Linked DNA regions of Homo sapiens. The protein of the gene in region 2 purifies or fractionates together with the protein of the main gene of each other region. This does not show direct contact. Each region holds a gene or a part of one and is shown on either strand. Other genes may lie near its edges.

Region 1 (3,752 bases), on a different chromosome or scaffold from region 2:
ATTATTCTTAGATGTAATAGTATGTGGTATGCTTTAGAAATTAAGTATATAAACTTTTCTTTTCTTTTTTTTTTGAGACGGAGTTTTGCTCTTGTTGCCCAGGACGGAGTACAGTGGCGCAATCTTGGCTCACCGCAACCTCCGCCTCCTGGGTTCAAGCAGTTCTCCTGCCTCAGCCTCCTGAGTAGCTGGGATTACAGGCATGCACCACCATGCCCAGCTGATTTTGTATTTTTAATAGAGACGGAGTTACTCTATGTTGTTCAGGCTGGTCTCAAACTCCCGACCTCAGTTGATCTGCCCGCCTCGGCCTCTCAAAACTGCTGGGATTACAGGCATGAGCCACAACGCCCAGCCATATATAAACTTTTCAAAGCACTGTGCCTTCAAAGATGTGATAATTTTCAGAATTTTGAAATTTTAACAATATTAAGAGAATACACTGTGAGGGCAGTGTGCATGACTTGGTACTAGTTATGCTGGATAGCTCTGCTAGGTTGTTTTCTGTGTCTGTTATTGGAATGAAAGCAATGGCATAAGGGCATAGAGATGCCAATTTGGATTTGTCCCCAAGTATCTCTTTGCTGTCATGAGCAGTGGGAAATAAGAATTTCAAGTGGAAAAGAGTGAAGAAGTGAAACCATTTTGAATTAGGCCATTTCCCAAAAGAATCTTCCTTTTTTTTTAAAAAAAAAAAAAAAAAAAAAGTTTTTTTGAGATGGAGTTTTGCTCTGTTGCCCAGGCTGGAGTGCAGTGGTGTGATCTCAGCTCACTGCAACCTTTGCCTCCCAGGTTCAAATGATTCTCCTGCCTCAGCCTCCCGAGTAGCTGGGACTACAAGCGTGCCCCACCACGCCCAGCTAATTTTTGTATTTTTATGGGTTTCACCATATTGGCCAGGCTGGTCTTGAACTCCTGACCCCATGATCCGCCCACCTCGGCCTTCCAAAGTGCTGGGATTTATGGGCGTGAGCCACCGTGCCCGGCCCAAGAATCTTGCTTTCTTATTGAGTTTAAGATACATTAGTAAATGTGGGAATTGTGGTGATCGGTTTTTGGAGTGTCTTATTGGTAATAAGTTGCTTTATGCTTTAGCATAAAGTAAAATGTCAGAATTTATAAGGTCAGTGGATAGTAACTGTTTGAAAAATGACTAATGTGCATATTTTAAGTGTTTGTTGTGGGGGATGAGGAGGAGGGAACAGAGTTAGTATTTCCTAGCAAAAGCATAAAATTTCTTCAGTATTTGACTAAAATACATCTGGTGGGTAGCATTGTGTTCAATAAAATAATTATTTTGTCTGTAGTTACACTTCAGTCACTAATTTTCTTAAGTAGGAAAATGTTTTTAAAAACTGTTTTGAGCAGAAGTATTATACAAAGTTTAATGTGAAGATTTATTTTTCTAGCTTCCAGAAATGTTGCATGGTGATGGTGACAATGAAGAACATGGCTTTTGTCCTGTGGGGCAATTCATCCTTCAGAATTTAGGATTGCTCTTTGGATTTGCCATTATGCTGGTGATTGCCCTCTATGAAGATAAAATTGTGTTTGACATCCAGTTTTGACCTTTCCCAGTAATCACTGTTGATTACGAGAATGTTACCATGCAGCTTTGCATCTGTTCCTTGTACTGTATGCACATTGCTCAAAGGAAAGTCAGTGGCTTGCACTACTTACAAGTTTCATAGATTTGAGCCTAACCACAAGAGGCTGGTGCTTAGTACTGTTTTCCCTGCACGTAGGGGTCTTTTAAAAATATAAAGCTTGTGATAAAGAGAGGAGAATATGGGACTCCATGAACCAGTGTTGATATGTTTGATTAAGACTTTTCACAAAATAATCATATAAAACACTAGTCTCTTTATTAGTAGAAACTTCTGTGGCTATGCAGAAATAGAGATCGAACCAAAAAAAATCATTTAAACTTTAAAAATATTTTAAATGGACTTTGGGGAGACATTTTTTGTGTGTTTTAAGAATGAATTGTAGTGCTCTTTAATTCAGCTACATATATTCATGTGGTGATAGGGATCAACTTGACACAACTTTGAAACTGCATAAAGTAGACATAGGAACTAGAGGAAAGCTCAGGCTGCATTAGAGTATGAATTTAGCATTGGGAAAAGCCCTTATTCTTGAATCTAGAGTTACTATTTTTGTATATATTTGCATAGTGTTTAAACCTGCAGCCTAAACTACTGAAATTTGTGATTGTATGTTTGTGTGAGCTTCAGTTTAATGAAAGATTCATAATGGTTCTTTGTATTATTATAATACTTGGTGTTGGGGTGTTCTTTCTGTTTTGTTTTTTACTTTAATTTTGTTTTGATTTTTTTTTTTTTTTTTTGGCGGGGGTAGGTGAGGGTTTGGAGCATGTGGTCTTTTTAAAAAATTGTAACCCTCTAGAAAATATCAAAGAAATGAACCAGACGTGGTTTAAATAGTTGATTTTCCTATTTTAACAGTACCAACTAGTTAATTGGGAAATGTAAGTTCTGAATGTTCACATTGCTTTACCAGTTTGGCACTGGAACCAAGAGCACATGTCGTGGCTGGCTACAAGGTTGTAAAGCAGAAAATCGAAGTTTACCATGTCTGTAATGTGTACATGAAGTGTCAATTTAGAACAGTTACTAGGATAAACTCCATTATTGCCATGGCTGTCATGGTACCCAAGTGACTTGGAAGATGCATTTAAATTACTCAGCTGAAATCACTTGATCATCTTGTGCCAAGATATGCTGTTGGTGCCTGATAGGGATTAGTCTTTTAGGTGCCCTGTTCTCCTACCATAATTGTGAATGATTTGTGAGAAGTGCAAGCCATGTTTATCCTGAATTTTTACTTAATAATTTGTATTACTAGTCATATGCATGTAGCTTTCTGTTTACATCCTATGCCACATGGTCTTCATTTATGCCAGGTAAACTGTATTTGAACTATGTGCAGCTAGCTTTGTTTTAATCTGCTTGGCAACCAGTGTAGCTGCTGTAACAATCTATCTTATTGTTCAAATATATAAGAGCCAAACTCTTTTCCATTCCATCTAAAATGTTTTCATTTAGTACTCTTCTTTCCTCCTACTCTATGAACTTCAAAACAAAAACAAAACTTTGAGAGCAGCACATGCATCCAGGTATTTATAGATTATTGCCAGTGTCTTTTCTGTATGCTATAAGCAAGGGAGCTTAGGTGTTATTTCTTTAATTTATGCTTGAATCTGAAAAATTATTTCTGACTTACTCCATGGCCTCCTTATAATAAGTAGAAGTTTTATATATAATTAATTTTCAGCATTGGGCACTGAATTAGGACAGTCCTCATCTCATTGCTTGGCCCTTCAAGCAACCTAGCTAAAAGGTGCTGATATTTTATTTAGTACTGCCAACTTCAAGTGATTTAGATATCTATCTATCTAGATTTCTGAACCAAGATATATTTATAGTTCACTTTTGGGTTTTTATACCCACGGTAGGATTCTGCATTCCAGCATTAAATCTGCTTCATTTTAGAACCTTTATAAAAGCAATAGCTGGAATATACTCCCAGTTTTAAAATAAATGCCTGATTGATTTAAAGCAAGTAGGTTATGCTGAAGTATATAAAGAAGTTTTATATTCTCTCAAAAATGGTATTATCTTTCTTTATTTGCTAGATTCTTACAAATCTTTTAAGAGGGCTGTAACAGTTGCTGCTAGTATTAGGGTTCCACATCATTCTAATGTATAGTTTCAAGTCTTAATAGACAA
Region 2 (4,626 bases):
TAGGAGCATGCAATAGCAGCTAATATTAGCTATGCAGTCATGGTATTATTAGTGTTTAATTATATCATGTGCATTGAGATATTTTAAATGTTAAAGAGAAAACAGAAGGACTTATTCTTCTTAGCAACCATTATAGTACAGAATGTTCAAAGCTGCAATCACATTCATAAGGCAAATAAATTGGTTACAAAATGAGGGTAGCAACAAGTGTGCATGCTATAGAAAATGTGAAACGGTACCTAAAATAGATAATCACCTTATTTGTTTTCAAAATTCCAGTGCTGGCTCTGACCATCAATTATCAAACTGGAAAATTTTCACTATAACACTCAACGCCAATTTTCAGTCTTAAGAGTGCGAAAAAAAAGGAGCATAAAATAATTTTTTTTCTCACTGGCTAAGATTCTACCTCATTTGAGAAAGACTTTATTAAAAACCCTTTTAAGAATAAAGGGCTTGAGGTCTTAATGGCAACTCATACTGGTGGGCACACCTAGGGCTTCACTGCCCCAGGGTAATATACAAAAACTAAATGGTAAGAGAAGCATCATCAAAGACAGGTTACTTTCTAAAATACTTTCTACATATTGTTTTCCTTCTTCAATGTTATTTCCTTTGGTTCATGCACACTCAAGGCGCTTCATATATAAGACGATGAAAGTGGAAAGGGTTATACATTATGAAAGCTCTTTTTCAAAAACAAACTGTGTGGAAATAAATTAACCGGTTATTTTAAAACGCCAGTTTGCAAGTTCTTCAAGTCTCTGGTGTTTTGACTTTAGGATTCCTCTAAAACACAGAAACAAAGGGTAAAAATCAGGTGGCCGTCCAAAATGACTTCGGGCGCCCCACTTAAAGAGACGCCTTGGTTCAGGTAGCCCGCTGGGGTCGAAGGCCCCATTTTCCCCCGATCTATCGGGCTTCGCGGCGGAAGTCTTCGTTCAGGCAGGGGATGCCCTAGGAGGGAAGGAGGCGACGGTGCCCAAGGACGTCGGAAGCCGGGGATCTCCGCTTCCCTCGGGCCCCGGCTAGGTTACCAGTGCTGGCCCGCGGCGCGGGTGCCCAGTTGCGCCTGGGACACTGCGGGCACGGCTGTGGCGGCAACGGCAGCGGCCGCCGCGTCGCCGACGCCCGGCAGGACTGAGCGCACGGAGCGGCGGAACTCCTCGTTCCTCCACGTGTAGAGCAGCGGATTGAGCGCGGACAGGGCGCAGCACAGGAGCCAGCTGGCCGCCTGCACTCCCCAGGGCACCGGCAGCGAGAAGCCGCTGGCCAGGCTCACCCACACCAGTGGCTGCGTGGCCAGCAGGAAGACGCAGCAGAGCAGCAGCACCGACAGGCCGCTGAGACGCCGCTGTGCCCGCCGCGGGTGCAGCGCGGGCGGCAGGGGCTGGGCCTGCGCCGGGTGCGCGGCGCCACCGGGGCCCGGCGCGTGCTGGGCGCCCGGGAAGGCGGCGGCGGCGGCGGCGCAGCCGGGCAACTGGTGCAGCAGGTGGAAGTTGAGCACGCTGACCCGCTTGACGCTGACACGCACGCGGCGCACGATGCCCAGGTAGCAGTGCAGCAGCAGAGCTGTCTGCGCCAGCAGCGCCGCGGCGGCCAGCAGCGCCGGGTAGTGGACTCGCGGTGGCGCGGCGCCGGGCCGCGGTGCCCAGGGCGGGAGCAGCAGCACGAGGCCCAGGGCGAGCGCCCAGGACAGCGCCAGCATGCCCGCCGTGTGGCGCCTCTGGTACAGCGCCTGGTAGGTGGCGGGCGCCCGGGTGATGAGCAGGTAGCGGTTCAGGGCCACGAGGCAGTGGGAGAGGAGGGACACCGTGAGTCCGAGGCCCAGCAGCCCACCCCGTAGCAGGCGGTAGCTGCCCCCAGCGCCGTCCCAGTCTGCGGGGGGCTCCGCAGAGCCGGTGGGCAGGAGCCCGAGCACCGCCTCCTGCGGCATCCAGAGGGCGCAGACGCTGAGGTCGGCGGCGCAGCCGTTCACGATGAAGGCGTTGCTGGTGGTCTGCAGCTTTCGGAAGGACGACACGAGATAGATGACCATGCCGTTGGCCAGCGTGCCCCCGATGGCCAGGCCCGAATACAGGAGTGACACCGGGATGCGCCGGCCCGCCCACGACTCCTCTTCCTCGCAGAGCAGCAGCAGCGAGCCACCGGTGGTGGAGGAGGTGGATGTGGAGGAGGAGTTGGTCATTCTGGCCAACTCTTCACACCTCCCTCGCTAGCGTCGGCTTCTGGCAGCGCGGTCCATCCTGACACTGTCCTGCCTGCCAGAAGGGCAAAGACATCCCTTCAGCCCTCTGCCACTGACACAAAAGGCTGAAGCAGAATAATGGGCTGGGGGAGGGGGAGAAAGGGAGCTCGAGGAGGAGGACGGGGGTGGCAGATGACAGGTGCCTGCCTCGGAAATGTCTCCAGAGCCAGGGGAAAGGCCACTTTGCATTGGATTCAGCAGGTATCGGGGAAGCCCTAGGACAGAGCAATACCTAAAACAGTCTCCTCTTCTCCCCCAACACACACACACACACACAGAGAGAGAGAGAGAGAGAGAGAGAGAGAGAGAGAGAGAGATATGTTGCCAGCTGGAGGACCTAGTTCCAGGAGAAAGCAGAGATATCCCAGCTGGGGAAAATCCCATGGGAAAGAGGTGAAGGTTACCTTGCGTTTAGGCTGGTCCTTAGCCGGTGTCTCAGGGGGAGGGATGCCGGGAAATACCTCCTCAGCAACAGCATCAGTGGTCCAGAAATCAACAGGAGAAACTCAGCTGGGATCAGTGCCAGGAGCAAGTGCCCGCTTCTCCCAAGCAGCATCCACACACATGGTCCTGGGCAGGAACTAGCAGCTGCAGGGAGACTTCTCAGCTGGTATCAGGGCTGGAGAAAGTAAAGTGGCGGGCTGCAAGCCCAGGCGGGTGGGCAGGCAGGCAGCAGCAGCAAGAATGCTTGGCTGCAAAAGCAGAAGCTGAGCTCAAGAGGAGAGCACCCTGTGCTCAGAAGCAGGAGTGGTGGCTGATGTGGTGAACCCACTCGAAGCTCTCTCCTGCTTAGTTATACATCATCCAGGGAAAAGACAGCCTTTCCACGCTTGGCATGAATTATTCAATAGCTTCCAACTTGTAAAAGGAAGAAAAATATCTTGCTCAGAAAGTCCTGTCGTTAACAAGTTTCTCTGTCTTTTCTCTCTCCCAATCACCTTATTTTTCATCCTGTTTCATTTTTCTTTCCGTCCTTTTTTTCCCTCCCTTCAATATTAGAATAAAATTTAATATACCCTAGAGTATTTCATCTCAGTCTGATGCATTTTGTGGGCAAGATTTTTCTGTGAGATAAATATATTCCCAGTACCCAGGACTGATCTCTTTATTCCCACATTTTTTAACGAGAATTACTTTATGCACTACTTGAAATTCATTTTTCTTTGGTAAAGTGGAACATAGACAATTATCCACAGAAAATCTCCATTCCTCAATTTAAATCGTACTTTCAGTGTTTTCTCATCAACAAACTCCTTTCCGGAGTTTGTTTTGTGTTTTAGTAATGAAATGGTTAGAGGGTAAAAATGAAATGGGCAAAAGATTTAAAGCAGATGTCAGTGGTACATCTAGACAATGGAATATTATTCAGTGCTAAAAAGAAATGAGCTGTCCAGCCATGAAAAGACATGAAGGAACCTTAAGTGTGTATCACTAAGTGACAGAAGCCAACTGGAAAGGACTACATACTGTATGCTACCAACTATGACATTCTTGAGAAGGCAAAACTATGGAGACAGTTAAAAAGACCAGTGGTTGCCCGAGTTAGGGGGAAAGGAGGAATGAATAGATGATCACGGAAGATTCTTAGGACAGTGGAACTACTCTGTATGATACCATAATAGTGGATCTGTGTACTTATAAATTTGCCCAAAGTGGCAGAATGTGAAACATCAGTGTAAGCCATGGACTTTGGGGAATGATGTGTCAACGTACATTCAATTGTAACAGACGAACCACTCTGGTGGGGGATTTTGATAATGGGAGAGGCTATGTATGCGAGGGGCAGGGAGTACATGGGAAATCTCTGTATCTTTCACTCAAATTTGCCATGAATCTAAAATTGCTCTAAAAAAATAAAGTCAATTTTAAAAAAATGTGTGTCAGGGGGAAAGCAAGAAACCTGAATAATCCACAGTGTGAACAAAGATGACTTTTCACTTCAGAACTTTTTGTCTTGTCTGTCTTGGAGATTTGCAGTCTGATGTTGGCATCTTCTTTGGTGCAAGTGTTCATTTATCCATTCCATGTGGGAATTTTTTCAGAAAAGGAGTTCTCTCAATTATTCACTGGAAAAGTCATGTATTTGAAAATGTAACTCAATATGGGAATATGGTAACATGGCATAATAGAAAAAAATGTTAGGTGGGGTTGCAGCACACCCAGATACTAAGCCGAGCATCCATCATGTAGCCTTGCGATGGATTATTTTCATCTTGTCAAATAAGTTCACAGTCAGTCACTTCAAAGGCCCTTTCTGTTAAAACTTTCTGTGAATCCCTATTCATGAATTTAGCATTTCTTCTCTCTAATTATGACACATGGCATATACCTCTTCTATCTAACATGCATTGCAGTTGTAGTTCTGGGTCATATGTCCC
Region 3 (3,752 bases), on a different chromosome or scaffold from region 2:
GGTGGAAACCAATTAAGTGTTATTCAACCAGGTGCAGCAGCTCACGCCTGTAATCCCAGCACTTTGGGAGGCTGAGGTGGGCAGATCACCTGAGGTCAGGAGTTTCAGACCAGCCTGGCCAACGTGGTGAAACCCTGTCTCTACTAAAAATACAAGAAAAATTAGCCAGGCATGGTGGTGGGCATCTGTAATCCCAGCTATTCAGGAGGCTGAGGCAGGAGAATCGCTTCAACCCAGGACACGGAGGTTGTAGTGAGCCGAGGCCATTGCACTCCACCTGAGCGGCAAGAGTGAGACTCTGTCTTCAAAAAAAAAAAAAAAAGGAAAAAAAAGAGTGTTATTCAAAAACCTCTTTAGGCCAGGCGCGGTGGCTCACACCTGTAATCCCAGCACTTTGGGAGGCTGAGGCAGGCAGATCACTTGAGGTCAGGAGTTCAAGACCACTCTGGCCAACATGGCGAAACCCCATCTCTACTAAAAATAAAAAAATTACCCAGTCATGGTGGCAGGCACCTGTAATCCCAGCTACTCGGGAGGCTGAGGCAGGAGAATTGCTTGAACCCAGGAGGCGGAGGTTGCGGTGAGCCGAGATCGGCGCCACTGCACTCCAGCCTGGGCGACAAGAGCGAAACTCCGTCTCAAAAAAAAAAACCAAAAAACAAAAAAAAAACTTTGATTAAAATGGGTAGTTCTCCAAAAAGGAATTCTGTGAGTTCAAGCTCTTTTTTTTAACACAAGTGTCTTTTTTGTTTTGATTTTCTCTTTTCTTTTTTTTTTAATATAAGATTCTGCCTTAGATTAACTTTGAAAATTACCTCCTCCTGATTGATTAGACTGTGTTAGGGACGTTATTTAGGCCACTCATTTATCTACTTCCCTCACCTGTCTCTCCCCATCTTTCCTTCTGTTGTTATTGTGTTTTTTAACATGAGGGTTTTGGGGGAAGCTAAAGAGAAGACTGCAAGATGAGTGTTTTCACAGGGCGAAGCCCCTGTGGTTGGCTGCTGGAAGGTTTCTCAAGGGCTTTTTATATCCAACAGACTGAAGGTCCAGAATTAAGTCCAGGAGTAATTGAACTTCAAGATAAGTTACAAAATGAGATAGAAAGGTGCATCTAATAGTTATCTGGGAAAGGTGTTAAACAAAGCCATGATTAATGGTAGTTAATAAGTTATGAAGGTACCAAAGAATTCTTATGAAGTAAGTTTTTTGAAATGTGTTCTGTGTCATCATTAAGCTAAGACTACTTGGCAGATGTCTTACAGTCTGGACTACGTAACCTTGACCAAGATTCCTCATCACCCTAGATTGCAGCATTGTGTCTTCAGGGATGAATAAACCACTTGAAAGTGAAAACAACATCATACCATGATAGGAGGCCAGGTGCAGTGGCTCACACCTGTAATCCCACCACTTTGGGAGGCTGAGACAGGAGAATCACTTGAGGCCAGGAGTGTGAGACCAGCCTGGGCAACAAAGTGAGACCCCCATCTCTATAAAAATAAATTTTTAAATTAGCCAGGCATGGTGGCATGCACTTGTAGTCCCAGCTACTTGGGAGGCTGAGGCAGGAAGATTGCTTAAACCCAGGAGTTCAAGGTTACAGTGAGCTGTGATCATGCCACTGCACTCCAGCCTGCACAGCAGAGTGAGACCCTGTCTCTAAAATAAAATGACAGGAGACATCACATTAGCCTAAAGGTTAACTTCTGGACACCTTGGCTGCTAAGTCAAAAAGTCCAGAAAGCCACCCTTGCTTTTCACTACTTTCAGAATAAACAGACCTCCGCTTCCTTTGTAGCTTAGTGGGTGATTGGATTCTAAACTGGCCACTCTATAAGAGAAGACAATTTGAACTAAAGCTGTTGCTAATAAATGGTTATATCTACTGCAATGAAGAGGAAACAAAAACATGGAGTCTGTTGAAAAGTGGCTTGATTCCCTCAGTCAACTAATTGATAAGTATTTGTTAAGCATTAACAATGGTTCTGGGTGCCATGAGCTATACTACAGAAATATAAATCTAATAAAAATATATCCTCTGCCTTATAAGTAGATTAAGACCAGTTAGAGAGAGGAAGCTTAAGGTAAGTTAAATAATAGTGACCAATGCAGGGTACTATCTAATTCATTACAAAATTATGTGGAATTTTTTTTTGTTTTTTGACGGAGTCTCACTCTGTCCCCCAGGCTGGAGTGCAGTGGCGTGATCTTCTACCTCACTGAGTTCAACTCAGTGAACTCACTGCAACCTCCGCCTCCTGAGTTCAAGCGATTCTCCTGCCTCAGCCTCCTGAGTAGTCAGGATTACAGGCATGCGCCACCACGCCTGGCTAATTTTTGTATTTTTAGTAGAGACAAGGTTTCACCATGTTGGTCAGGCTGATCTCGAACTCCTGACCTTGTGATCCGCCCGCCTCGGCCTCCCAAAGTGCTGGGATTACAGGTGTGAGCCACTATCTGGAATTTTTTAAGCACTAATTGGCTGGAGAATGTACTTTAGGAGTTTGGAAAGAACAAGAGGAGAATTAAGGCAATGCCATGCAAAGGGACACCCTTAAACAGGTATGGAAGGCAAGTAGACATGGCGCATTCGAGGGACTGGGTAGAGAGAGAAGCTGGGTGGGACCAGTGGTTCTGTCCTGGTGAGTAGTGGGAGTGCTGTTGGCCCTGCGAGGCCAGGTCATCGAAACTGGGCACAGCTGTTTAGGCCGTCCACTAAACCTTCACCATCCAGTACAGCAGCCAGTAGCCATGTATAAATACAGCCATTTAGTTACATGTGGCTGTTGAATGCATGAAGTGTGTCTCTTTCCAACTGATGTGCTATAAGTGCAAAATACACATTGTATTTCAAGACCAGTGCGAAAAAGAATGTAAAATTCCTCACTAATCACTTTAACTAATCACATGATGATGTGAAATTATTTTGGATATATTGGGTTAAATGAAATATGTTATTAAAATTAACTTGTTTTTACTTTTTAAAATGTGACTACTAGAAAACTTTGAATTACCGACGGGACTCACGTTACATTTCTCTTCAACAGTATTACGCTAGATTAAAATAAGTTGTCATGAGTTGTTGAACAAGGGGAAGGAACTGACAAGAAGTGATACCCGAACCTAGAAATGCCTCTGGGAGAGGCAGAGCAGAGTTGCTTCCCTGGATACATTGGCACCTTGTCAACAATTTCTTTTAAGGCAACACATTGACATGGCAGGAGTTCATGATTTAAAAAAAAATTTTTTTTAAAAAGAGAGCTGTGTGAAAGAAAGCAAGGCTGTTAAGGCTGTGAGTCACATAGAGGATTTAGCCATTGGGTGGTACCTTTCCTTTTATATAAACACCCACCAACAGTGCAGACCCTCTCCAGCCCCTCCCCCTCCCCACCCTCACTGCCATACACTGCCGTGCTTCTTCCCACTAGTGTGGCCGTCTGAATCTTCTCTTTAGCATCACTGACAAGTGGTGGCTTAACATCTGTGTGAATGCCTCCAATGATGAGGAACTCGGTACCTCACGAGGAAGTGTGTCCCATTCACTCAGTATTGTTACCAAAAATACTTTCTTCCCGTCCTTTCCTCCCTGACAATGCTTAAAAAGAGGGTTAGAGTTCCTGGATCCTTGATTCCAGGTAACAAGAGGGGCTTATCATTGTTTTTTAAAAACAAAAAGAGGCCGGGTGCAGTGGCTAACACCTGTAATCCCAGCACTTTGGGAGGCTGAGGAGGGTGATGTCACCTGAGGT
Region 4 (3,121 bases), on a different chromosome or scaffold from region 2:
TTTCCTTACCTCAGAAATGAAATATTATTCTTATAATACCTTTTTGTGGTTGCATGAACTAATGAGTGAATGGACAATGATGAATAAATGTGAAGCTGTATTCTTAATACCCACTGCAGAAGTGTCATTAAAATAATATACAGTGGAACCAGAAAGAGGGTTCTGTAAGAATTAGCCATAGCAGAACAAAATTATAGAATTTTAAATACCTCTACCCAAGTAGAGGTATTTTTATTCAGACACCTACTTTTTATTTATAAAAAAATGCATTTTCTATTATCAAGTTCACTTATGAAATAAAAATTATAACACATATTTTCCATTTAGCGTGCCTAACATCCTACCTTGCCTTCTATGAGTCTTTCTTCTAATACTACACCTCTGCCTTATTTTAGTTCAGGGTTTCACTAAGTAACCCCTACATTAATAAATGAGTATGGATAATGCTAATATTTGAGCAATACAGAGGATTAAGAGATCAAGATACTTCACTGCCTATTAGCCTAATAGGGATACCTACTTTCTTTCAAATGCCAAAAATTCACATTAGAAACATAATCCAGATATGTGTTATTTTATATATATATATACAAAACAGTAAATGGTTTCTTAAAATTATTGCTATTTTTCAACCCCCTTAAACTGGAGAAAAACATTTAATTAGTAAAACATTAATTAATTTACTTTAATTTTTCCCATCTCTCAGTAGTGGCGGGGAGGAACACAACAGTTTTCAATCTATGTCTGCATAGTTGTGTAGAGCTGCAGAATTTTAGTTGGATTTTTAATTTGGATGATCCCTGACAGCCCCAAACTAGTCAGGCTAATAAGTATTTGAGGCAAAATGGCTTTAATCTAACAATTTACTGAGTTTACCTGAAGTTGGCTAAATAACACTGTATGTTTAACTTCTACCTCTACATAAGTTGAATGCTGATAAAAGGAACTAGTAGATAACTATGTATATTGATAAGCACTGTTAAGAAAATGCAAAAATATTTCTAAACACTTTTCCAAATGTTTTCTACTTTAAGTTAGAAATAGTTTCAAATCTGAGAATAAACACTATATAATCTGCACTTTATAGGTTGGGTGCAGTGTCTCATGCCTGTAATCCCAGCACTTTGGAAGGCCAAGGCAGGAGGATTGCTTGAGGCCAGGAATTCAAGACCAGCCTGGGAAACAAAGTGAGACCCTGTCTTTACAAAAAATAAAAACAAAAATTTAAAACTGTATAATCTGCACTTTATGCTAAACTAGCTGTGCTCTTAAACTCAATTTTTTCAGCTCTAATAAAGGGCTTAATTTGATAGAATTATTCTACGATTAAATTTTGAAGACTGTTTTCACTCTCCTCTGCCGCCCATAGCAAGACTGCTTCCATAGATTTCTCAGAACCGTAGCCAGTTCTGGCTATTTGGTCAAGTCTGGGATCCCTCTTACCTGCTATTCTGCAGCTGCTTTCTCTGTCTTACATTTTTTGGGCCACGTCTAATCTTAAAGAGTAAACTCTACCCTTGGTTTGCATAGTGTGCATGACAAAAATAACAAGAATAATGGTAATGATGAAAATGATAAGAGCAAAATTTGTGGAGTGCTTTCCACATTCCAGGTAATGTGTAACATACAATTTAATTCTTACAGCAGTCTTATGGAGTGAAAATACTATTATGATTCCCGTTTTACAGATGAAAGAATGGAGGCACAGAAAAGTTACTTGTCTAAGTAACAGTCTATCCTTAAAGTCCACAGTCTTAACCACTTGATTTTTCATAGTGAGGAAAATATCCCAGAAAGTTGCAGTTTCAATTAATCACTAATTGTAGGGTAATTTAACTATACCAGTGAGTCCTACTAGCAGAAATATTTGGGCAACATAAGCCCACTGACTGGAGCTTTTGTCTTAGCATAATAACCTGTTTCCAGCAAGAATATAACAGAAAAAAGTTTCCCAGCTTTCAAAGGTTTATAATATTGATTAAAATTTAGATAAACTTAACCTTACACAAATGACTCTTACTTTCCTTTTTATTGAGAGCATTTTCTTTGGAGCATTTTCTTCTTTGGAGGATTATACCTTGCTCATCTTGGCACAAAAGAAGGCGAAAGGAAGTAACATGGGATTGGGAAAAGAGCAAGGAGATAAAGTTTGAGGAAAAAAAATCACCATGTTGATGTCTTCTTGAGTAGGCCAAGTTGCGTATAAAGAGAAAATGACAACAGGAGATTTTAAGGTATGATATATTGTTAAGAGTAGTACATATTTAAGAAGAGAAAATATGTTTTTGAAAACAAATTTAAACTTGAAAGGATGATTTTCATATTTTGAAGGGATTTATAACTTCACAAAGCATCTCCATTCTATCTTGTTCAGCTTTACATTTAAAAATAAACTCTTCTTGTTCATATAAACCTTATCTCTTACATAAAGTGAAATCTGTTAATTTTTTGTTTTGACAAGGATAAACTACTTACCTGCATCTGTTTAAGAATAGATTAACTTATTTTGAGAAGAAATTCTGGGCACCATTTTTGACCATTGAAGACTTATTTGTAATTTAATTTCTACTTTACATTGTGAATGTTCATTTTCTAATAAACAAGATTATTTTGCATATGTACCTTAAGCTTTAAAACTTTATTCAGTCGTCTTTCAGTACATATTTAAGGGGGTACCCACTATGTGCCAATTACAATGTCATTTGGGGGATTGTGCGGTAAACAAAACACACAGAGCTCCGACCTTCATGAGGCTTATGTACCAGCAAGAAAGTCAGATATTCACAAGATGATTTCACAGATGATTATGATTGAGGGAGGGGTGATGAGAGAGAAGCATAGGGAGCTATGAGGGTGAATATGATTAACAGGGAACCTGACCTGAACAGGAGAGTCAGGCATGTTTCTCCAGAAGAAATGATTAGCCAAGACCTAGTGGAAGAGAAAATTTGGATTGGTGAAGAGTGGGACAAGTACTTTTCAGGCAGAAGGCAGTGTGTACAAAGCCCTGGAGGTGGGAAGATCTTGGAGCTTTCACAGAACTAAAAATAGGTCCAAGTTGGGTGGAGTATAGTGGTTGAGAAGAAGCCTAATTTTAGCTGAGTCTATAAAGGGACAATGC

The links. The genes of interacting proteins can lie anywhere in the genome.
Region 1: the proteins of GPR88 (region 2) and SLC39A10 purify together in Homo sapiens (affinity purification with mass spectrometry; one large-scale study listed by BioGRID and IntAct). This does not show direct contact.
Region 3: the proteins of GPR88 (region 2) and CNNM1 purify together in Homo sapiens (affinity purification with mass spectrometry; one large-scale study listed by BioGRID and IntAct). This does not show direct contact.
Region 4: the proteins of GPR88 (region 2) and MFSD8 purify together in Homo sapiens (affinity purification with mass spectrometry; one large-scale study listed by BioGRID and IntAct). This does not show direct contact.

Annotation. Positions count from the first base shown.
Region 1 is NC_000002.12:195,733,474-195,737,225, forward strand, and holds part of SLC39A10 (zinc transporter ZIP10 precursor), read left to right. Parts: intron 1-1,409; coding exon 1,410-1,568; 3' UTR 1,569-3,752. UniProt on the Homo sapiens protein: Zinc-influx transporter. When associated with SLC39A6, the heterodimer formed by SLC39A10 and SLC39A6 mediates cellular zinc uptake to trigger cells to undergo epithelial-to-mesenchymal transition (EMT).
Region 2 is NC_000001.11:100,536,529-100,541,154, reverse strand, and holds the start of GPR88 (G protein-coupled receptor 88), read right to left. Parts: upstream 3,017-4,626; 5' UTR 2,653-3,016; intron 2,262-2,652; 5' UTR 2,189-2,261; coding exon 1,034-2,188; 3' UTR 1-1,033. UniProt on the Homo sapiens protein: Orphan G protein-coupled receptor implicated in a large repertoire of behavioral responses that engage motor activities, spatial learning, and emotional processing. May play a role in the regulation of cognitive and motor function.
Region 3 is NC_000010.11:99,381,104-99,384,855, forward strand, and holds part of CNNM1 (metal transporter CNNM1), read left to right. Parts: intron 1-3,752. UniProt on the Homo sapiens protein: Probable metal transporter.
Region 4 is NC_000004.12:127,917,305-127,920,425, reverse strand, and holds the end of MFSD8 (major facilitator superfamily domain-containing protein 8), read left to right. Parts: 3' UTR 1-2,621; downstream 2,622-3,121. UniProt on the Homo sapiens protein: Outward-rectifying chloride channel involved in endolysosomal chloride homeostasis, membrane fusion and function. Conducts chloride currents up to hundreds of picoamperes.